Homo sapiens: one gene and its partners. The protein of the gene in region 7 purifies or fractionates together with the protein of the main gene of each other region. This does not show direct contact. Each region holds a gene or a part of one and is shown on either strand. Other genes may lie near its edges.

Region 1 (3,500 bases), on a different chromosome or scaffold from region 7:
GCCAGGTGGAACAGAGCCATACTGTTCTTCCTTCAAAAGCAAATGGGAGAAATATCGCTGAATTCTTTTTCTCAGCAAGGAACATCCCTGGGAAAGAGAATACGCGCCTGGGGGTATAGGTCTATAGATGGCCCCCCTGGGTGTGGCCATCTTTTATGGTCTGTAGACTGTAGGGGTGAAATACACCCCAGTCTCCCATAGCGCTCCCAGGCTTATTAGGAAGAGGAAATTCCTGCCTAATAAATTTTGGTCAGACCGGTTGCTCTCAAAACCTTGTCTCCTGATAAGATGTTATCAATGACAATGGTGCCCGAAACTTCATTAGCAATTTTAATTTCGCCCTGGTCCTGTAGTCCTATGATCTCGCCCTGCCTCCATTTGCCTTGTGATATTCTATTACCTTGTGAAGTACTTGATGTCTCTGACCCACACCTATTCGCACACTCCCTCCTCTTTTGAAAATCCCTAATAAAAACTTGCTGGTTTTTGCGGCTTGTGGGGCATCATGGAACCTACCGACATGTGATGTCTCCCCCGGATGCCCAGCTTTAAAATTTCTCTCTTTTGTACCCTGTCCCTTTATTTCTCAAGCTGGCTGACGCTTAAGGAAAATAGAAAAGAATGTACGCGACTATCGGGGCAGGTTCCCCGATACCCATCTGTACAAAAAAATGTAAAGAATTAGCTAGGCATGGTGGCATGCATCTGTAGTCCCAGATATTTGGGAGGATGAGGTGAGAGGATTGCTTGAGCCTAGGAGGTGGAGGTTGCAGTGAGCCAAGATCGTGCCACTGTACTTCAGCCTGGGCAACAAAGCCAGACCTGGTCTCAAAAAATAAAAAAAAATTTTAAAAAGGCCTGGCATGGTGGCTCACGGCCTGTAATCCCAGCACTTTGGAAGGCCAAGGTGGGCAAATCACTTGAGGTCAGGAGTTCAAGACCAGCCTGGCCAACATGGTGAAACCCCATCTCTATTAAATATACACAAATTAGCCAGGTGTGGTGGCAGGCACCTGTAATCCCAGCTATGTGGGAGGCTGAAGCAAAAGAATTGCTTGAACCTGGTGGGTGGAGGTTGCAGTGAGCAAAGATTGCATCACTGCACTCTAGCCTCGGCGATACAGCAAGACTCTGTCTCAAAAAAAAAAAAAAAAAAAGATATTTGGGACACCAGTAACATATTAAATAATTTACTCCCCCAAAAGCTTTCTATTTTCTTGCCAAATGAATCAAAAACTTAGTTCAAATCGATGAAGTTACTTCTTAAAAGCCAGAGAGAAAAAAAATCAACTCCAACAAGACACTAAACATTGGTGTTTGTACTTATCACATAGCATCTTTACTCAAGGGTGGCCTTTTACCACATACCAGCCATGTTCTAATTGTAACTGTTTCCGTTAATTCCAGGGTTTCCCAATTGGTTGATGTGTTTGCAAGTTTAAGGGTCTCTAGGGTTTCTTTACTCAAACAACTCTACACAACTAAGCACAGGAAGTTGATAAGCAAAGGTACTTGCTTTGAACAGAGTAACCAAATAAGGCCAATGGTCAATCTCTATAAAGCAAAGCAAATATGACTTGTGTTTCAGTTTTACCTCCTGTATTTTGGGATCCTTATGTAGTTCTTCCAAAGCGATAGGCAAGCACCACCTCTTCTATACATGAGAAAATGAGGCCCAGAATATTTAAGTGCCTTGTTTGTGGGATATAGGGTTGATTAGTGGCAGAACTAATGCATTCAAATGACAATGACTTTAAAGCACAGATTAACATGTATCTTTTTTAAAAGGGCCAGATAGTAAACATTTTGGGCTTTGAGGGTCAAAGGCTATTGTTATGTAGGTACTTATATAACCATTTAAAACGTAACTAAAAAACGTAAAACACATTCTTAGCCTTCTCACAGCAAATAAACAGGCAGCTGGCCAGCAGGAGTTGGTGGCTCCTGTTCTATAGGAACAGCCTTACCTACATACTAACATGACTACTAAATGCCATTGTTGAGGACTGTCAGCAGCTGTCTTAAAATTTTAAAAAAACTTTATTCTTTTAAGAATTATGGTACAATACATGTAACATAAATTTTACCACCTTAACCATTTTTAAGTGTACATTTCAGAGGCATTAAGTACATTCACACGGCTGTGCTATTACCAACATCTACTTTTCCTTTATTTTTTCTTCTGAGACAGGGTCTTGCTCTGTCGCCCAGGCTGGAGTGCAGTGGTTTGGTAAAGGCTCACTGCAGCCTCGACCTTCTGAGCTCAAGTGATCCTCCCACAACAACCTCCTAAGTAGGTAGGACTACAATCATGCACCACCATACCGGGCTAAATTTTTTGTAGAGATGAGGTCTCCCTATATTACCTAGAGTGGTCTTGAACTCCTGGGCTCAAACAATCCTCCTGCCTCAGCCTCCCAAAGTGTTGAGACTACAGGCGTGAGCCACGGTGCTCTGTGTACCAACATCTATCTTCAGAGGACTCTTTTCATCTTGCAAAACTGAAACTCTCTGCCCATTTAGCAATAACTACACCCCATCCCAGCCGTCTTCCATTCTACTTTTTTTCTGTATGAATCTGACTATTCTAAGTACCTCACATGAATCTGACTATTCTAAGTACCTCACATTAGTAGAATCACACCATTTTTTTTTATAGATGGCCTATTTAGCATAATGTACTCAGAGTTCATCCATGTCTTACCATCTGTCAGAATTTCCTTTTTAAAGGCAGAATAATATTCTATTCTATGTATATACCACATTTTTCTTTTTTGGAGACAGGGTCACCTAGGCTGGAGTGCAGTGGCATGATCACGGCTCACTGCAGCCTTGACCTCCCCAAGCTCAAGTGATCTTCCCACCTCAGCCTCGGGAGTAGCATGTACCACCATGCTTAGCTCATTTTTTGTATTTTTAGTAGCTATGTTGTCCAGGCTAGTCTCCAATTCCTGGGCTCAAGCAATCTGCCCATTTGCCTGCCTTGGCCTCTTAGAATCTATCTTTTTTTTTTTTTTTTTGTTTGACACAGGGTCTCACTCTGTCGTCCAGGCTAAAGTGCAGTGGCACAATGAAGGCACACTGCAGCTTTGACCTCCTGGGCTCAGGTGATTCTCCCATCTCAGCCTTCCCAGTAATTGGGACTACAGGTGCCCACCACCAAGCCCGGCTAATTTTTTGTATAGACAGGGTTTCACCATATTGCCCTTACACTCCTGGACTCAATCTGCCCACATTGGCTTCCCAAAGTGCTGGGATTATAGACATGAGCTACCACACCCAGCCTGTATGGCTGTTGTGAATAATATGCTGTTATGAACATGGGCACACTAAACACCATTCAACTTAAAAAAATAATCAAAGCCTTAAGAACTGAACCAAAATGGCTTAGGTGAAAATAAAATACCAAACTCTGCTCTAAGAAAAGGAAAGAACATTCACTGAATTATACCTTCAGCAATAAGCACTTAATGGAACTTGTTTCATTTAAAATGCACCAC
Region 2 (3,500 bases), on a different chromosome or scaffold from region 7:
CTGGTCCTCTTGCAAAAATGTTAATTACTGTATTCATACTTTACATCCCTTGTCTCTTGTTTTTAAATGCATTGTAATCAATGAGCTTTGGAACAGTTTGTCTCACCACAAAATCATGGTTCTGCAGAGTGGGATTGGTGGTTTTTGTAGGGGAACCCAAAGCATTGTTGCACATTTGAAGACCATTGTGAGCTTGGATGGGCCCTTAGAGTTTGATGATATATCCAAAAGTGAACTCTGATAATAATGCATTTTTCCCTGCCATTCAAAGTATATTATGGTCTTAATTTCCTGAAGTTTTTCCCTGATGATTTACTTATTTATAGACATCTGATGAAATCTTCTATTGAATTTAAAGCTGATACAATGTTCTTGTTTCATTTCTTGCTAATAGCCAGATGTGAATTACTAGTAGCCAAGTTTTTATGGTATTGTCAACTTTTTAACTGGTTAGTTACAAATAGGGTGTGCTTGGATACAACTCATCTTTTGTAAAAGCCCCTTTTCCTGCCTTCACTACCAGTATTTCCTGATGGCCATCTCTTGCCTTTCTTATAAACCATGTTGCTGATATTCTTCTGCAATGCCACTTGTTTCAGGTGTTTTTTGTTTTTGTGTGTGTTTTAAGACAGTCTCCCTGTGTCGCCCAGGCTGGAGTGCAGTGGCACGATCTTGGCTCACTGCAACCTCTGCCTCCCGGATTCAAGCGATTTTTGTGCCTCAGCCACCCTGAGTAGCTGGAATTACAGGCACCCACCACCACGCCTGACAAATTTTTGTATTTTTAGTAGAGACAGGGTTTCGCCATGCTGGCCAGGGTGGTCTCGATCTTCTGGCCTCAAGTGATCCACCCGCCTCAGCCTTCCAAAGTTCTGGGATTACAGGCATGAGTCACTGCACCTGGCCTCCAATGTTTTTTCAATGTTCTTTGGTTGCAAATTTTAGCAAAGTTCTCTGATTGAAATTAACATGGTAGTAGGTCTTACAAAGCCAAAATCGATAAAATAGCGCCTGGGTATCCCTAACTTTCTCTCTTTGACTCTGACTTCTCTTGGGATGGCCAGGTGCTGAATAAGAATCCCGGAACCATGGCACTGCGTAAATGCAGATTATTGGCAGTGTGTGATCTGAGCTACAGTATAGTGTGTTTGTTAGGAGCGTGGATCTGGGAGCCAACTCTGCCATCTGCCACTTCCTAGCTGTATGATGTCGGGCAACTTTTTAACCACTCCAAACCTCAGTTTCCCAATCTGTAAAGTTGGCCTAATAAAAGGACCTTCTCCATAGGATTATTGTGAGTTCTAAATAAGTTAATACTTGCCCTGTAAGCATTAGCTGAGTTAGTACCATGTAAGCATTGGTTGTTACTACATATTAATCAGTCACTTGGCAGGAGCTGGGCAGGTATGAAGAAGAGTAAGGAGGTGAGAGAGGCTGGTAATGAGAGAGAAGAGGCACTGGCTAAGAGACAAAGTGTGCTTTTTCTGATACATATTAGTGGATAATATTTCACATGGAAAATTTTATATTTAACTTGCTTTGTCCATTTTAATTTCTCCACAGGCCTTTGTGGAGGCCCAGAATAAGATTACTGTGCCATTTCTTGAGCAGTGTCCCATCAGAGGTTTATACAAAGAGAGAATGACTGAACTATATGATTATCCCAAGTATAGTTGCCACTTCAAGAAAGGAAAACGGTGAGACTGCTTTTACTGAATTTCCTTTTTATTTTCAAAGTAAATGCTTTCTTAAATTGTAAAATACAAATTCCAGATAACTTGTCCTTGTATAAGATTAATTCATTATAAGGAATTAATTTCTATGCCTGAATATGAGAGTAATATTTTTGATCTATTAGGTATTGTCCAAATTGTTAAAATAATAGTTAAGAAATTTAGTAGGGATAGGTCATATAAAGAAATCTAGATTATAGGAAATCGTCGTCTTATCGGTAGTAATTGGTGAGATAGGATGATTCATAGACAGCAGTGGAGGTTTGTTTGCCTCCGAAGTTAATTATCTTTGATGTATACTACTTGGAAACATTTAATTCTGTGTTTTTCTTCTGTCAAAGAATGGTGAAATGGGTGAATTCACTTCTCTTGTTCCTGTCCCGTTAACACCCACTTACAGATGTTTTCTTGATCTTTTATTAAATCTCTTTGGAGCCACTATCACACATTTACTTTAGACTTTCTTCAGCCCTCTGCCATTCTTACAGAGATCGGCAACGTACAGTCTGCCTACCAAACCCTGGCTGCCTACCTATTTTTATAAATAAGGTCTGATTGGGACACAGCCATGCTTATCGGTTTACGTATTGTCCATAGCTGCTTTTGTGCTGCAGCTACAGGCCTGAGTATTATAGTGACAGACTGTATGGCTCACAGAGCTTGAAATATTTGCAGTCTTGCCCTTTACAGAGAAAGTGTACTGACCTTCCACCCTAGCAGCCTTGCTAGGGAAAAGAACCAGAATTTTATTTTAGAAAAGTCTGCTTTCTTCTTCATTTAAAAGAAAAAGTTACTGCTTTATTTGAATATCAATTTTTATTTTAACACATAAAATGGTCTTTATTTGCCTCTACTCGGCTAATGTGCAGGATTACAATACAGGATTTGAATATGGAAGCAATTCTGTTAACAAGCTCTAGGTAGAGAGAAATGATGGAACCTTTCACCCATGTCCCCACGTCCCTGCGATGGCCAGATTACAGTGGTACCTTTTTAGGTCTTTGGTTTTGTTTTGGTTTTTGCTTGTGTGTGTTTGGTTTTACTCCACAAATAGAAAACTCCACAGCTGAATAAAGACCATCTCTGTTCCCCAGGTATTTTTATTTTTACAATACAGGTTTGCAGAACCAGCGAGTATTATATGTACAGGATTCCTTAGAGGGTGAGGCCAGAGTGTTCCTGGACCCCAACATACTGTCTGACGATGGCACAGTGGCACTCCGAGGTAAGTGCTACACAGAGAGGCCCGTGGAACTCCTAAGACCCTCACTTGGAGCTCTGAAGTTAGTGCAGTTGCTTTACCTCTGAAATGCCAGGCAGGGTGTGGACCATATTGTGGAACAGATGCACATACAATATCAGGAAAGCTAATTTTTGCACAGTATATTTAGAATACATGAATAGTCACATTCCTCTTTTCCACTCTGATGGCATGAAGCAGAACTGGAAAATAATTAACACTGGACCCAAATTAGCTTCTAGGGCTTCTGGAATCTTGACATATCATCATCATTTCCTCCAACATCCCTGAGACCTACCTGTGATTAGAAAAAAATAAGTCGTCTTCTATAAGAAGTTTAAGCTGTACAAAGATTATTCCAACTATAATATTAAACAGGAAAGAATGTTTATCAGATCAGTTTCCCTCTTGGGAAGGAGGCGATTAGAGTTTTAAAAATCTAGTTAATTGTCAACATGTTAGAATTACAAGTAAAAACACACAAATCTTGTAGAAATTGAACAGCTGGGTATCCTGTTCCCTGAAGA
Region 3 (3,500 bases), on a different chromosome or scaffold from region 7:
GTCACAGTATAAATGAGAATATGACTTCAAATATCCAGCTGTCTAGGAGGCATAAAGACTATTTGTCTTTTGGTTTAACCACTCAGCTTTGGGAATTGCTGATCTTACATGTACTCTACCGGAACCAGTGACACATACCCCCTCTGCCCTTCATGGACACCCTGTTAGGTGACTTAGTTATAAAGAAATATACCACCATTCACTAAAACAAATTTGGGTACACAAAGAATCTAGCTGTGTGTGTGGAGGAAGAGGCTTTTCCACCACAAGCCAGGTAGCCTGCTCGAGCTGCTGTGAGATGTCATTTAATCTTATGGTTTCTCTATGAAAAAAACTTCTGAAAATGTATCTCCAAGACCGTATCTCTCATTTTATATGTTTTTGATTTTTCACAGTTACTTGAAAATTACCAATGAATTAAAATAAATTAAGAAGTTAATAAATGCCTATAACATATATAATACTGGGAGTAATAAATGAAATCCAAAACATGGTTGCATCCTTTAAGAATGAGATTCCAACAAAAACGTCAGACATTCAAACAAAAACTCTAAATTACTTGAGATACCTGAGAAATTGATCATTTCCCACTTAGCTCACTTAGCATTATAATTACCCACTTCCCCTTAATTAGCCTGTTAAGTCCTACAAATGTCGTAGTATTTTTTACATTGCCACAGTGCCTGTCCTTGTGCCTAGAAACTAGCATATGCTCAGTGAATGTCTGCTAACTGAATGGATAATGAAAATTCATGGAGTCTTGACAATTTCCTGTCAGCCTGAATTCAGAGACGCACCTAAGTAGCAAAATTTCCACCTTACTTTATATTTAATTTATCCCTATTTAAAATGCTAATCAATGGGTAAAAGATAATGTTAGGGAAGAGCAAAGGTTCTCCTGGTTAACCCCTAAGATGAAAACAATCTTTCTGGATTTAGGTAACTAAAGTACACTACAGTTAAAAACCGAAAGGCTCAGAGCTGCCAGGCATAACAGGGCGCACTCACCTACTGAGTGTACAGCTCCAGAGACACTGAGGAGTTTATGGAAAATGACAGCATCCCACTACACCACAGAAAACATACCCAATCCATTCTACTGAAACAGGTACAGTCATGTGTCGCTCAGCAACAGGGATACATTCTGAGAAATGTGTTGCTAGCCAATTTTGTCACTGTGTTAACATCATAGAGGGTACTTACACAAACCTAGATGGTATAACCACACACCCAGACTATATGGTATAACCTATTGCTCCTAGGCTACAAAACCTGTACAGCACGTTACCATACTGAATACTGCAGGCAAACTGTGACACAATGGTAAGTGTATCTAAACATGTCTAAACACAGAAAAGGACACTAGGAGACCAGGTGACAGGAATTTTTCAGGTCCATTAGAATCTTATGGGACCACCATCGTATATGTGGTCTATTGTTGACTGAAGGTCATTAAGTGACAGATGATTGTTTCACCAATACCCAAACAGTAAAACAGCCAAAGTCTTTTGGAGTTTTCTGCAATATTCATTTTATTCCATGTAAAAGAATGATTTTGGCTTAGAAGTAAAATTATAAGACACTGTTTTGTTAAGAGTGAGTTACCTGGATTCCAAGAAAACTGTTCCATGTTTCTTAGACACACTATCAGTAAAAGCACATAATTTGTGAATCGTTCCTTAATATCTAAAAGAAAAAAAATCAACATAAGTACTGTAGTGTATATAAACAACATAATAAAGTACATATATAATTATTTTAGCCAGAACATGATGAAATTATTAGACGATGTATAAATGTCTATAAATATACAACTTTATATATATATATATGTGTGTGTGTGTGTGTGTGTGTGTATATATAGGCTGGTGCTACCATGGTAAGCCATTGACTTCTTTTGCCAACATAATTCTAGTATGGAAATTCCAGTTTTCTATAAACTTCAAAAAGTATTCAAACCATCAAACTGCTCAGATGAGGTCATTAGGTTCCTCCAATGGGCTTTGGGGACATATGACAACTGTTTCCATTTTACGGAAGAAAAAATAGAAGCAAAGAGTAAAATGAAAGACTTTGGGTAACAAAATCCTTGTATAAAATCCCAGACTATTTCCAATCTGGTAAATAGTACACAATTACTGAACTGATGAGTCCTTTAGCTGAGAGAATCCTGCTACTACAATAGCATTTCCGGGGGTGTATGTAGAACTTGAGGTAAAATAACCCCAAATTGGGCTTCATAATATTTACCATAAACTAATAACTGTGTGCTGAGATTAGGTGGAAGGAATTTAATAAAAGCAAATCACTGAATTCTTGCTAAAGGCCAGTGTACACATTTCACTTTTTAAGCTGTTAACTTTCTCATAGTCTAAGATACCGTGTAACCAAGAAATGGGACAAAATAAATTTGTCTGCAGTTAAGAGTGGCACACCCATGTATGTGTGCCGATGCAATAGTGGGGGCTGTGACTAGAAACAATCACTCATATAACAACCCATCTCAAAAGCTTTTTTACAGTCTGCTGTCATTTCCCTACTTTCCCACTGCCTCAGTAAATGCAAGCCTCACCCATATCATTCAGCCATGGCGCACCTCCTGTAAGCGCTCTGAATTTCAATTTCATCCTGATGTACTTCATGGGACTGTCTTTGCTTCTCTTTTTTTACTTCCACCTTTCCCCATTATTCTCTAGCAACATGATACAAACTTTTATTCCACAGCAAAACCTTATTCTCTGTAAGCGAGTTGGCCTTTATTCTCTGTACCTTCCCTACATCCTTAAGCTCTTCCAGTCAGTTGCTGGTACCTTCTTTTTCAGGGTAGCTCACCTCCTTATTAGTGATGGGTCTGAGCTGTGCCTTCACTCCCTCAAAGCCCAGTGGGCACTACTCACTTCCTATTTCCAAAGCTGAAGCACTATTTATTATGAGTGTGAGCTCAGGGCACAGTGAGTCTCAAGGTACCAAGCACTGAGATGCCTCTTTAGGAGGCAGGGCACCTCCGGAGCAAGGCCATGTGGATTTTCAGGTGCACCTGTTTTGATTTGTCTAGATCACATGTTTAATTTATTCTGTGACTTCAAAAGAGGATACAGGTTAAAGGAAACTAAGAAAAGTCTGCCCTAGAATAAGTTCCATCAAAGTCTGACACAAAATATATTCTTTGTTACTACAGCTAACTGTGGATCTTAATTCATGGGGTTAAATTTACCAATGTATCTTTAATTGGAATTCTGTAGAATTATTCACCAAGCTGTACCTATATGTGTGCTAAGTCCTTTCTAATTTCCATAAATGAATTTAACAATGAAATGTATTTATTTTTGATACTTCCCAAACATGTATAATATAGACTTGCTTCATTACAGAATTATCTGAAAATAAATGGCCTTGAGAAATTTAAAACACTATCTGAAATGAGCCAAAGTAACTTTTGTAAACTCTAACAAAGCAAAACTACCATCGAATTTAAATTAATTGTATTTGATTTTTGGACA
Region 4 (2,186 bases), about 16 Mb from region 7:
AGCCTACAAAGACAGAATTCTGGTGGGGTCCTACTCCTTATGTAATTTCAGGGGTTCAACTCCTAGGAAGTCTTTGCCACTGTCTACCTCAGTCCTTTCTGTGGCAGTATGTATAAGCCATATTAGGTTCTGTAGAGATAGAACATACCAGGTCAAAGACAGGTCTTCTGAGTCTTCCACTTTCCCTAGTTCCTTAACTGCTCTATATGTGACATATGTCCCCATCTTCCTGCCAGATGGGCCACCCTTTGCTGAAATATAGCGTGTAAAATACGAGCGGTCCTTGCATCCACTACACGGTCTCTTGGACCACCACTGCTACCTGCTTTCTTCCTTAGTTAGGGTTTTATATCTACTTAGGACTTTTTCCCTTTTCCAAAGCACACTTTGAAACATTCTATGAGGTAGACAACAGGAATTATTATCCTGTGTACAGATGGAGCTCTTCCCATCACAGCAGCCCACCTGGATCTCTACAACCACAGGACTTCTGAGATCAGAGTCTGGCTAGGGGCATCAACGAGAGCCATGTCCAAGATGGGGGCGGGGGATGTGGGGAGATGCTACCTGGATATCCCGGTTTAGCAGCTTCTTGGTGAGATGCTTCAGAGACATGGTGGCATTCTCCGGGCAGTCAGCCTTCCGGTTGAGGGGGGGGATATGGGAGGTGTCACGGGTGAGGGACTTGGGGTGAAAGTACTGAAGGGCTTTGAAGTCGTTGTGGATGGCATGCCCCACCACTATCTTCCCTGTGAGTATCTTCAAGATCTGGAAGAAGTGTGGGAAGAGAGTGGTGAGAAGGAAGACTGAAGTGGAACCCCTGCATTCTGAAAGCCCAACATGACCATCAATCCCTTCTGGATTCTTTCACCAACTGCCTACCTCTCCATCCTTGAAATGCTCACTCCCACAAGTTTTCTTTCTTCTGGAATCCACCTTCCTCTTCCACAGGTGATTTCCATGGTATACCCTGTTTGGACTCATACTGCCAGTGGCTCCTTACCTTCTTATTGATCTCCACCCCATGACATTAATTTGCCTTCAGTCCTAAATGACACTCATGTTTGAGATGTCCATGTATTTAGTTCAGTTCTGGCTTGCTACATGAAGTCCTTTAACTATTACCATTATGTTGGCCTTAGACACATGGCTGGGACCCGGGCTCCAGGGAGGCTAACAAAAGCCCAAAATTACATGCAATTAGATGTGTATGGGTACTAGAGGAAGAGAATCTGTGGCTTTCATCAAATTCTCAGAGTCTACAAACCGTAAAAAATTAAGAATCACATATAAACTAAAGTTGCAGAAGCAACCTTATTCACACTAGTTTTGGAACCAAGTAAAATAAAAATAACTTCTCAATATTTCAGGAAACTGTTTTTTTTTTTTGAGATGGAGTCTTGCTCTGTTGCCCAGGCTGGAGTGTACTGGCGCGATCTTGGCTCACTACAACCTCCGCCTCCCGGGTTCAAGCGTTTCTCCTGCCTCAGCCTCCCAAGTAGCTGGGACTACTGGCACCTGCCACCATGCCTGGCTAAGTTTTGTATTTTTAGTAGAGACGGAGTTTCACCATATGGGCCAGGCTGGTCTTGAACTCCTGATCTTGTGATCTGCCCGCTTCAGGCTCCCAAAGTGCTGGGATTACAGGTGTGAGCCACCACACCTGGCCTTCAGGTAACTTATTTTTTAAAAGAGATGAGGTCTTGCTATTTTTCCCAGGTTGGCTGGCCTCAAACTCCTGGGCTCAAGCAATGCTCTCACCTCAAACTCCTGAGTAGCTGGGATTACAGACACATGTCACCACACCTAGCCATTTCAGGCTCTTGAAGTAGGAGGACATGCTACCAATGAGGACAACCGAAGAACACACCACAGGCTCTGAAGGCCATTCCCAAATGAGGTTCCAAACAGGTTTTCAACAAAAGTGACAGTCCTGCATAGCCTCCCAAAGGGACCCCCTCTGAAGGGGCTAGGCTCATCTGGACATACCTTAGTCTCATAACCCCAGCTTGGCACTGGGGAAGTGCTTTATGATGAAAACCAGACGTAGTCCCGTGAACTAGATATTTCGTTACTCCTGACTTCACCTACTTACTGTCCACCACCACCTTCACTTCTTATTAACCTCGACATATAGCCCTCATCAAAGCTGGGCAGATTTGCTGTCTCAGACCCGTCCCATCTTC
Region 5 (4,090 bases), on a different chromosome or scaffold from region 7:
AATATGCAGTGTTTGGTTTTCTGTTCCTGTGTTAGTCTGCTGAGGATGATGGTTTCCAGCTTCATCCATGTCCCTGCAAAAGACACGAACTCATCTTTTTTATGGCTGCATAGTATTCCATGGTGTATATGTGCCACATTTTCTTTATCCAGTCTATCATTGATGGGCATTTGAGTTGGTTCCAAGTCTTTGCTATTGTAAATGGTGCTGCAATAAACATACGTGTGCATGTGTCTTCATAGTGCTCCTCAATTCTTAAAAAACAACTGGGGGATAAAACCTCACAGAGGTGTTATAAGAATTACGTGTGGAAAGCAACCGTTTATGTACATGTGCGTATTAATAAGTACCTGACACAGAAAGCATTCAAGGAAAGACTTATTTACAGGTAACTAATGAGAGGATTAGCCTTTTGATAACAGAAGAGCTGGTAGGCAAAGAGGAGGAATTAAAAAAAAAAATTACAAAATCTTTTAGGAGAGAAGAATGTAGCCAGGAAAGCAAGAGGTAAAACTCTCTCTTCACACTAACTACCCACCTAGGCACCAAAGTTACCCTCAAGAAAAGTAAACAGTTTTGCTTTGATTTGTGTAATTCAAGCTGGAAATAAGACACCCAAGGATGGATGCTCACCTCTAGAAGCAGGAAGACAAGCAACCATTATGCAGGGAGCAAAAGAAGAGGTAGTGGAAAAAAAGATTCTTGCAAACAGAACATCCAAAAATTAAGGTCTGTAACCAAGAAGAAGCTGTTGATTTCAGGGAATGGGAAGGAAACATTTTCAAACCACCATTTGGCAGACTCAATGCTGGGCTCTCATTTGCATTATCTCTTGAAATCCACAATGATCCTGCCACATAAAATCCCCATGTATAGACAAGGAAATTGAGTCAAGGAGGTGAGGTCAATATCTGAAGTTACAAGATATTTTTCTTGAAAAACATCAAATTTTAGTAAGCCTTCTACTGTCGCTTTTCAGCAAAGTTCTGTACTACATTCTGTAACATTACCTATCTGTAACTATCAATAAAAATTTCCCCTTTGTCTTCAATTAGAAATAGAAACGAAAATGCAAAAAGAGAAACAGTACAGAAAAAGTTCCTGGCAATAAGAAGTTAGAATCTAGGGTAAAAATCTAAAAGGAAAATGAGTAACATTTCCCTTTCAAGTGCAGAGCTTTCCTGGAGAATCCCAGGCAGTGTCTGAGCTACCAGAAAAGTAACCCACTTGTCCCCAATCACAGATGGAAGGCTAAAATGTTTGTCCACGGCCATCTAATGCAAAACCGCCTGTTTCTATCTGTAGATTCTGCACGAAATGCTTTTGGCTGAGACGTGCAAGCAAAACAAGTGCAGACCAACAGGTTATCTGCCAAGCGGTTAGGAGAATGAGTTACAAAACCTGACAAGCAACATCAGCTCTTCCGTACAATTCTATGAAGCACTTCCTGCCACGGGTCCCGCTATTTAAAACAAATTAGGCTGCTCGCTCCCCACAAATCCCATCTAGCACCTCTCGGTTCCTCAGTCTAGCTAATAAACCATGCACTGGATTCTTCCGAAAGAGACCCCCCGCCCCCGACCCCGCCACCTCCGCCACTTTGCATAACTGGCCAAATGCATTCTCCAAATTTGCAATCAAGGAGCTTAATTCACAATTGTGGATGGGGCGGGGGGAACCGCCAAGTGCAAGAACACGGAACGGTTGCAAGACGCAGTTCAGCAAGAACAACTCTTGCTCTAGGCATTGCTCCGTCGACCCGAGGTGGTGGGGTGGGAGAGTCTTACCGGCGTGGAAACAGTAAAAAGGCACTTTTCCTTACAACTCGCAAGACAACACACACTCTAGCTCCCCCGGCGCAGAGCACAACCGCCCCCCCGCCGCGCGCCTCCCTCGCAGCCAACCGCTCCCGCCTCTCCAGGGATCAGGCTCCCAGAAAGGGCCGCCCCGGTCGCCCCCGAGTCCCCGCCCTCTCGCTTTCCCACCAGCCTCATCCCTCCCTGAGTACCAAGGGCTGCCGTTGTCTGGTTTCAATAAAAACTGAAGCGGTCCCGAGCTAGCAGGCTTCCCTCCGAGGGGCGGACGGAAGGTCCGCAGGGTTAACGGAAGCGGAGAGAACAGGACAAAAAGGAAAGGCCGGAGAGTCCCCCCAGCGGCGCCCGGTGCCCGCAGACCCTCGCACAGGCTCTTCGAACTCACCCGGGTTTCGCCGACTCCAAAGAAAGCGCGCTCCCTCCGAGAGCGCTCCCCCGGCTCTCCCGCCGCGCGCTCCGGCCCGCAGGGCGGGAGGACCCAGGCGGACAGATCCATCCCTCCGCGTCTGGTGTGGGCACGGTGTCGTGCCCCGCGGCGCCTGTCAGCGCGCACAGGTGGGACCGCAGCACAGAGAACGCTCCCGAGCGCCCTGCCTCAGCCTCGGCGTGGGGCGAGCCGCCCGCGCCCGCACCCGCACCCCTTTCCCCGCGCCCGAGGAGCCGGGCTGTACCCCGGAGCCGGCGGAGCTGGAGGCCGCGGGCGGAGCGCGGGTTGCCCCGGCAGCTCTTTCTCGGCACCAGGTCCGAGACCTAACGGCAGTTCTCTCTGACCGCTTCCCGGCCGCGCGCTCGCGCGGGTGTCATGGCCGAGCGGCGGCCCCCGACGAAGTTTCCCGGAGCTGACGGCTTTACCTTTTAGCCCAAGGGGCGGCAGCAGCTTTGAGCAGCAGCAAGGCGGCGGCGGCGGAGGGAGCGCGGGTGGCAGCCGGCGCAGAGGCGGATGTAGAAGGAGACACCGGTGGCTAGGACCCGCGCGATGGGAAGAGGAAGGCGCCGGCTATCTACAATCAGAACGTGGGCTGACCGTGACGTCACAATGGCGCGGCCAGCCAATCGGGACCCGAAGGATGAATCAAGCGCTATGATGTCATGCGGCCCGGGAGCCAATCGCGGGACAATAGAACTTTCGTGATCGTAAATTCCAGAATCCGATGCGGTGGAGAGCCTAGGCCGGGGTTGGCCCCTCGGTTCCACGTGTCTCTGGGAAATTTTTTTCCCCTTTCTTCCTAATAAGCCTGCGTGGAACGCAGAGCCTGCGCAATAGCCCCGGTGAAGTTGTCGATGCCCTGAACTCTGGTTTTTTTACTGCCAGGCGTGGCAGGAGTCTGTGGCCGCATTTGGGTGGCAGAAGCCCACCCTCGTTACGGTCTCCTCTATGAGTTATGTCATGCTGAAGGGGATCCACTTCATCGTTAAAGCTGAAAGGGTTAAATGCCCACGGAGACCGCCGGAGTGAAGGTCTGCAGTTGAACAAGATAAAGGAACAAGAACAAAACGACTCAAAACTGTTGTAACCATAACTCCCTTGCAAAGGATTTACCGTGTATTTTTCTTAGGGATTCTGATTTTTCTTTGGAAGCCACTATCAACTCCATTTCTACTCTAGAAATTATTCTAAAGGATTGTTAAATGAGGAAAGATGGAATCAGTGTCTTTTCAGCTAAGCATATTTAAGCACTTAAGACAAAGGGGGTTCAGGGCATAAACGGAAGATCCTTGCTGTTTTTCACTGATATTTGGATAATTAAAGACCTTCATTAGCTTTGTATCCTACTGTTTCCCCATTCAAACCCCAGAGATTTAGCCTTTCTTCGTGTGCCCCTCTTGCTGTATTCTTACTCCTCTATGTGCATCCACCTAACAGTCGGCTATTTAATGTAGGCAAATTTATTCTTTTTTTTCTTTTTTTTTCTTTTTTGAGACAGAGTCTCGCTCTGTTGCCCAGGCTGGAGTGCAGTGGCGCGATCTCAGCTCACTGCAACCTCCACCTTCCGGGTTCAAGCGATTCTCCTGCCTCAGCCTCCCAAGTAGCTGGAATTACAGGCACGCGCCACCACACCCGACTAATTTTTGTATTTTTAGTAGAGATGAGGTTTCGCCATGTTGGCCAGGCTGGTCTCGAACTCCTGACCTCAGGTAATCCGCTCGCCTCAGCTTGCCAAAGTGCTGGGATTACAGACGTGAGTCACCGAGCCTGGCCGGCAAATTTATTCTTTTACATATTTACAATGTAATGCTTATCACGTGCCAGCTGTGTTCCAGGCAGTGGGCCATTG
Region 6 (3,500 bases), on a different chromosome or scaffold from region 7:
ATACCAATTTCCTTTGAGTTCTCTTTTGTACATATTTCTCCTTTGACAGAAAAGAAAAACTTTTTCAGAAATTAGCAATATTAATTTATTAAAATAATTATATATATACTTTTGCCTCTCCTGAGAAATGCAGAAGCTGTGACATAATTTTAAAATGCTGGATTTCCTTTTGTTAGAATTAACATATTTGGGTCACTTATGCAGGTGAAATGCACAGTTATTTTTATATGAGCACTATTGAAAAAATACTATTCTAGATACATTAAAACTAACAAATGTCTAAAACACTAATTATTAAATTCTGACTATACTTTTAAAATATTAGTCTTTATGATTGATATTTATGATATTTAATTTGGTATTTGTAAAGCAAAAATGTCCTTTAATCCTGGTGAGGAAATACATTACAGAGTTTTCTCAACACTGCTACTTGTCAACCCTTTCAGTATTTTAAAACCTGCCTTTAGTTGTCTTTATTTGAATCAGATTGTGGGTTGCCAGTTTTGAGCCAAAGACATCGATCGTCTGAGTGTATGCTCTATGTAATTCAGTTTTTTTTTTTGGTAATGACCAAGTTGAAGTTTTACATGGTTTTAAGTTGGGCATAACTCCATTTATTATTTATTTATTTTTTATTAATACTATTCTTTAAAATTGATGCACATGAAAAAATTTCTTCCTAGGGTTCTGCGTATACCTCAGAAAGCTCTAAGATTGAAAGCTGAAATGTCATGACCTGAAAACTACTGATTCTTTCCCCTTTAAGAAAAGAATTTGGAAACTAGTGTTTATTCCATAACGTTACCTTCAAGTTATCCTGAAAGACACACATGACATACGCTTTTATTTAACTCTACTAATCTTTTTACTATTTTCTCTTTCCCTTTTTTTATGTATCTCTTCCTTTCACTATCAATGTCCATTTCATCTCCCCCAAAGCAAATTTTTACATACTGTGGCTAATATAGGTATTTGTTGTTAATGTGGTTGATCTTGTAATGTGTTACTTTCCCTGATGAAACCCAGAGCAGTTTCAGAGGCCTCAAATTCTGAGATCTTCCTAAGTTCAAAATAGATTGCTGGTAGAAAAGCATTGACATTAACCATGAAAATATATATTTGTGTATTGTTCCCACTTCTATAGACATATATTACTTTTCAAAATGTCAGCTCAAGGACCAGAAATTTTTTCTGAGGAGAAAGAGAAAGCATTGCCTTTACAAAAGTTTCCCTGATCATTCCATTTCATAGCATTTGTACAGTTTTTTACTTGTATCTCTTGATAAAATAATTTGTTCCTATATTCGTCAGCCATACTCAACCATCAGCTCTGTGAAAGCAAAGAGATTTTGTATTATCTTCATCTGTATGTCTATAACATCATCACAGTGCTGCTCCTGTTTTAGGTATTCAATATATATTTGTTGTTTAGTTAGAATTGAGCCATGTGGTATTTCTTAAAGGTATGTTTTTAAATCTAAGATTAGTGAATGGCAAGTACATTTCTCTTAATTTCAAAATATAATTTTCTTAGGTAGAGCTGTGTCCTTGAGGGCTTCTTGCTTTGGGGGTAGGAATATTTTATTTACATATATCCCTAACAATACATACATAACTTTATAAAGATAAAGAAAAATTTAAAGTTCCTTTTTAAGCTGTTAATGAGGATCGTGAAGTACAGGAAGGGTTTTTTGTTCTGATTCCTTAGGCAGTATAATTGGAGTAAGATACTGGAGTATTGCAAGAAGTGAAATATCTAAATACTTTCTTGTTTTAATCTTTGGATTTATTGCAGTTTTAATTTTTTTTTTGCCAATTTAAGTATTATATATAATCAGATAAGTTAAATAATGAGAAATACGTTACAGCACATAAAAAATGCTATTCAGGGTCAGCAAAGCCTGAGTCCTGTCCTCTCGCTCTCCTCCCTGGACAGCATGAGCTTCACCACTTGCTCCACCTTCTCCACCAACTACTGGTTCCTGGGCTCTGTCCAGCCACCCAGCTATGGTGCCTGACTGGTCAGCAGTGCAGCCAGCGTCTATGCAGGCGCCAGGGGCTCTGGTTCGCGGATCTCCGTGTCCTGTTCCACCAGCTTCCGCGGCGGCTTGGGGTCCAGGGGCCTGGCCAAGTGGATGGCCCAGGGTCTGGCAGGAATGGGAGGCATCCAGAACAAGGAGACCCTCCAAAGCCTGAACAACCACCTGGCCTCCTACCTGGACAGAGTGAGGAGCCTAGAGACCAAGAACCAGAGACTGGAGAGCAACACCCGGGAGCACCTGGAGAAGAAGGGACCCCAGGTCAGAGACTGGGGCCATTACTTCAAGACCATCGAGGATCTGAGGGCTCAGATCTTTGCAAATACTGTGGACAATGCCTGCATTGTTCTGCAGATTGACAATGCCTACCTTGCTGCTGATGGCTTTAGAGTCAAGTGTGAGACAGAGCTGGCCATGTGCCAGTCTGTAGAGAACGACATCCGTGGGCTCTGCAAGGTCATTGATGACACCAGTGTCACTTGGCTGTAGCTAGAGACAGACATCGAGGCTCTCAGGGAGGAGCTGCTCTTAATGAAGGAGAACCACGAAGAGGAAGTAAAAGGCCTACAAGCCCAGCTCACCAGCTCTGGGTTGACCGTGAAGGTAGATGCTCCCAAATCTCAGGACCTCGCCAAGATCATGGCAGACATACAGGCCCAATACGACGAGCTAGCTCAGAAGAACCAAGAGGAGCTAGACAAGTACTGGTCTCAGCAGATTGAGGAGAGCACCACAGTGGTCACCACTCAGTCCGCGCAGGTCGGAGCTGCTGAGATGACACTCACGGAGCTGAGACATACGGTCCAGTCCTTGGAGATCCATCTGGACTTGATAAGAAATCTGAAGGCCAGCTTCTGGAGAACAGCCTGAGGGAGGTGGAGACCTGCTATGCCCTGCAGGTAGAGCAGCTCAACAGAATCCTGCTGCACCTGGAGTCAGAGCTGGCACAGACCCAGGCAGAGGGGCAGCACCAGGCCCAGGAGTACGAGACCATGCTGAACATCAAGGTCAAGCTGGAGGCTGAGAGCGCCACCTGCCACCGCCTGCTTGAAGATGGCAAGAACTTCAGTCTTGATGATGCCCTGGACAGCAGCAACTCCATGCAAACTATCCAAAAGACCACCACCCGCTGGATAGTGGATGGCAGAGTGGTGTCTGAGACCAGTGACACCAAAGTTCTGAGACATTAAGTCAGCAGAAGCAGGGTACCCTTTGGGGAGCAGGAGGCCCATAAAATGTTCAGAGGTCATTGGGGGAAAATAGGCTATTCAGTTAAAATAGTTATCTGATGACTGAAATTTTTTTAATATGTCAGGTGTATTGAGGTATAATTTATACAGTAAAACTCAGTCTTTTGGGTGTGCAGTTTGATGAGTTTTGACAAACATACACAGTCTTAAAACCACCACCACAATCAGAATATTTCCATTACCCCCAAAAGTTCCCATGTATCCCTTTGTA
Region 7 (3,092 bases):
CTGTTTTTTTATTAAAAAAAAAAATGAGGATAACATCATCTTCAGGTTGTGGTGAGGATTAGAGGAACGGTGCATGCTCTGTGCTTGGCATGCATTCGGTAATAAATAATGACAATCATCCAAGGATCAACAAATTTTTTTTGTGAAGGGTCAGACAGTAAATATTTTAGGCTTTGCAGGTCACACATTTTCTCTCTTGCATGCTGTTCTGTTTTATCACTCTTTAAAAATGAGAAAACCTATCTGGCTCATGGCCCATATGGCCTGTGGGTCACAGCTTGCTGACCCCTGTTAATATTTATTTACAACATTATCATGATAGAAAATAAACATTCAGTTAAGGACTACTTAAAGGTAATTACCTTAAACCTTTCAACCTCTTTTCTTCATTTATTATCACAAAACATAGCAATAAACTTAAAAAGAAATAAACAATTACCTTCTTTTCTGGAGAAAACTTGAGGGGTTCTACAATGTACAAATCATTTGGGTCTACTGTAAGTAAAAAAAAAAAAAAGCAGATGTAAAATGTAAAGTGGATTTGGTGGATTTGCTATAATTAAACACTAAAATAAGACAAATCATTCATTCCTTATTATCCTCTAGTAATAGAACCAATGAATTTGTATCAGGTTAACTATATATTTATGCATTTTAAATTAGTAAGCAAAAAGAGGCAAGGTGGAAGATGATATGATTCCTATGCTTGACTGGTCGTCTTCAAATAACTATACTTCCTTAAGTTGTTAACTAGTAGCTGGTTATCAACCAATACAATAACGATCTTTCTTTGGGCCCAGCCTCACTCTTTTACCTGATAAGAAAAGAAACATTCCTGGGTAAGCTCACACCAAACCTACAGATCATTTGAATACTTCCCTAAAAGACTAGCCTCTAAACTGTGTCACAAAGGTAGATTAACAATGTGCAACAAGTAGTCGTGACCGTGTTTGGAAGCCAGTTAGAGAAATAAACACAAAAAGAGATCCAAGATATTTTTCTCTGTTTATTACTATGATCAAAACTATGAAATCCCAATCTAAAAACAGCTTGAACATGCAATATATATCACTAAGCAATAATGAATGAACACTTCTGGCATAGTGAGTAAATTAGATTTATTAGTTTTAGCCCAAAGTTTCTAAGGTTTCATTACTCTAAGCAGCTTCAAGATATATCCCAACCCCACCCCCACACTGACAAAATAGACACACATTTTTAAAAGGCTATGAGACTTTAGTCCTATTCAATCCACTAAAAATAAACAATTTAAGGTCTGACAGAGACAAAAGCTTACACATAGTAAATTCACTACAGAAGCTCTACACATTTGGGAAATTTATTAATACAATTCAACCAATTATAATTTTTTACATTATATTTCAGAGATTTATTGAGAAAGTCATCAAATATATGAAAATATCAAAACATCCCTCTAAACAGTCATTTCTACCAGATTACTAATCTTAATTTACTTTCTTTAATAATGATGTCTATTTCTAGAAACAGTTATGTTATTCAGATCAACCTCTACAATGAAAGCAACTAAGTAATGATAGTTTGTTTTTTTTAAAAAAAATCACTAAAAGCATTGAAAAGCTGCCAAGAAAGTAATCCCTAGGCTAAAACTGAAAGAAAAGTGGGAACCCGGACAGTCAAGTAGAAGACAAAAGTCATTTTTGCCCTGAAAACATTTGCCAACACAAGAATATATGAACTTTGGTTCTGATGGTATCATAAGGGAATGGATCAGAAATCAGGTCCTAGGGCCCACCCAAAGTTTAGTGTAATAAGATACCATCTCCCTGTGTACAGTAAACTGAGACTCCAAAGGACTATATTCTCAGGTAAAGAATGAAGCCATGCATGAACTTGCAGTCCAAATTATCATCACCTGGTGGCCCAACAAACCACAAGTCATGAATGTAAGGTATTACATGAATGTAACACACACACAAATTCCCTCTCAAATAAGAACCTATATTCTAGGCCTCAAATTATCCCTACAAATAACTTTTCAAAGAGAAAAAGTAGCACACAAAGACACAACATACCCTGAGTAAGAGCTTACAAAGACAATGAACAGACTCACAAAAATTTAAGATATTAGATTTATCAAACACAAACTATAAAGATAATTATGCTTAATATGTCTAGAAAATAAGCTTGAAAATATCTGCAGGAAACATATAACAAGGAAAATACAGACCTGGATTTTTAAAAAATACAAAAAGAACTCCTGGAAATGGAAAAAATAACTGAAATTGAAAACCCAATGAATAAATTTGCAACAGTAAGACTGCTGGCCTGGAAACACATCAGAAGATATCATCCAAAATACAGCATAAAAAGTCAAAAAGGTGGAATGTTTACAAGACAGGGAAGATATACGGAGAAGTAATATGTTTAATTAAATATGAGAATCTAAAAGAGACTGGGGCACAGGGAATATCTGGGAGGAAAAAATAATGGTTGAGAATTTCTCAATAACAAGTAAAAGAAACCTACAAATCCAGAGCTCCAAAGAGCCTCACGAATCTCAAAATGATAAAGAAAAAGAAGAGGAGAATATTTCAGTTTTAACTAATGACAAATGAAAGCTCTGAAGAATAAAAACATTAGTAAACGTGGGGTAAATTTAAATGAACATTAAGTGTAAAAAGAAATACCTTGTTGAGTTAAAATTAAGCAGAAAGAATAGAATTAAAATATACAAGAACAGTAACATAAATAAGGCTTGGGACAAATAAGAGTTTTAAGATCTATGTATTGTTAAGGAGAAGATACAAGTATTGATGAACTTGAGACTTTGGCAAACATTAATACTTCTGACTTCTAGGGTAACTAGTAAAAGAACAGAACCAGTACACAACTTCCAACATAATGGCAGTAAAAGGGAATATTTACTTCCTCCCCAATAAAAAATCTTAATGAAAGCATGGAAGGGGAAAAAAAAAAAAAATTAAAAGGGATACCCCTGCCCATCTAATTTTTATAAACCTTACATACCAAAATCCAACATGAGAAAATATTACATGCCAATCTTATTCATATAGATGCAAAATTTCTAAATAATTATCTAACAAAATTAT

What was found.
Region 1: the proteins of SUCO (region 7) and TIMM23 purify together in Homo sapiens (affinity purification with mass spectrometry; one large-scale study listed by BioGRID and IntAct). This does not show direct contact.
Region 2: the proteins of SUCO (region 7) and PREP purify together in Homo sapiens (affinity purification with mass spectrometry; one large-scale study listed by BioGRID and IntAct). This does not show direct contact.
Region 3: the proteins of SUCO (region 7) and TAPT1 purify together in Homo sapiens (affinity purification with mass spectrometry; one large-scale study listed by BioGRID and IntAct). This does not show direct contact.
Region 4: the proteins of SUCO (region 7) and ISG20L2 purify together in Homo sapiens (affinity purification with mass spectrometry; one large-scale study listed by BioGRID and IntAct). This does not show direct contact.
Region 5: the proteins of SUCO (region 7) and ELOVL5 purify together in Homo sapiens (affinity purification with mass spectrometry; one large-scale study listed by BioGRID and IntAct). This does not show direct contact.
Region 6: the proteins of SUCO (region 7) and NIPBL purify together in Homo sapiens (affinity purification with mass spectrometry; one large-scale study listed by BioGRID and IntAct). This does not show direct contact.

Annotation. Positions count from the first base shown.
Region 1 is NC_000010.11:45,996,489-45,999,988, reverse strand, and holds part of TIMM23 (mitochondrial import inner membrane translocase subunit Tim23), read right to left. Parts: intron 1-3,500. UniProt on the Homo sapiens protein: Essential component of the TIM23 complex, a complex that mediates the translocation of transit peptide-containing proteins across the mitochondrial inner membrane.
Region 2 is NC_000006.12:105,375,583-105,379,082, reverse strand, and holds part of PREP (prolyl endopeptidase), read left to right. Parts: intron 1-1,563; coding exon 1,564-1,697; intron 1,698-2,827; coding exon 2,828-2,958; intron 2,959-3,500. UniProt on the Homo sapiens protein: Cleaves peptide bonds on the C-terminal side of prolyl residues within peptides that are up to approximately 30 amino acids long.
Region 3 is NC_000004.12:16,177,972-16,181,471, forward strand, and holds part of TAPT1 (transmembrane anterior posterior transformation protein 1 homolog), read right to left. Parts: intron 1,687-3,500; coding exon 1,606-1,686; intron 1,599-1,605; exon of another isoform or gene 1,009-1,598; intron 1-1,008. UniProt on the Homo sapiens protein: Plays a role in primary cilia formation. May act as a downstream effector of HOXC8 possibly by transducing or transmitting extracellular information required for axial skeletal patterning during development. May be involved in cartilage and bone development.
Region 4 is NC_000001.11:156,723,581-156,725,766, forward strand, and holds part of ISG20L2 (interferon-stimulated 20 kDa exonuclease-like 2), read right to left. Parts: exon of another isoform or gene 985-2,186; coding exon of another isoform or gene 883-984; intron 769-882; coding exon 568-768; intron 1-567. UniProt on the Homo sapiens protein: 3'-> 5'-exoribonuclease involved in ribosome biogenesis in the processing of the 12S pre-rRNA. Displays a strong specificity for a 3'-end containing a free hydroxyl group.
Region 5 is NC_000006.12:53,346,151-53,350,240, forward strand, and holds the start of ELOVL5 (very long chain fatty acid elongase 5), read right to left. Parts: upstream 2,801-4,090; 5' UTR 2,667-2,800; exon of another isoform or gene 2,200-2,666; intron 1-2,199. UniProt on the Homo sapiens protein: Catalyzes the first and rate-limiting reaction of the four reactions that constitute the long-chain fatty acids elongation cycle.
Region 6 is NC_000005.10:36,883,269-36,886,768, forward strand, and holds part of NIPBL (nipped-B-like protein), read left to right. Parts: intron 1-3,500. UniProt on the Homo sapiens protein: Plays an important role in the loading of the cohesin complex on to DNA. Forms a heterodimeric complex (also known as cohesin loading complex) with MAU2/SCC4 which mediates the loading of the cohesin complex onto chromatin.
Region 7 is NC_000001.11:172,606,150-172,609,241, reverse strand, and holds part of SUCO (SUN domain-containing ossification factor isoform 1 precursor), read right to left. Parts: intron 496-3,092; coding exon 440-495; intron 1-439. UniProt on the Homo sapiens protein: Required for bone modeling during late embryogenesis. Regulates type I collagen synthesis in osteoblasts during their postnatal maturation.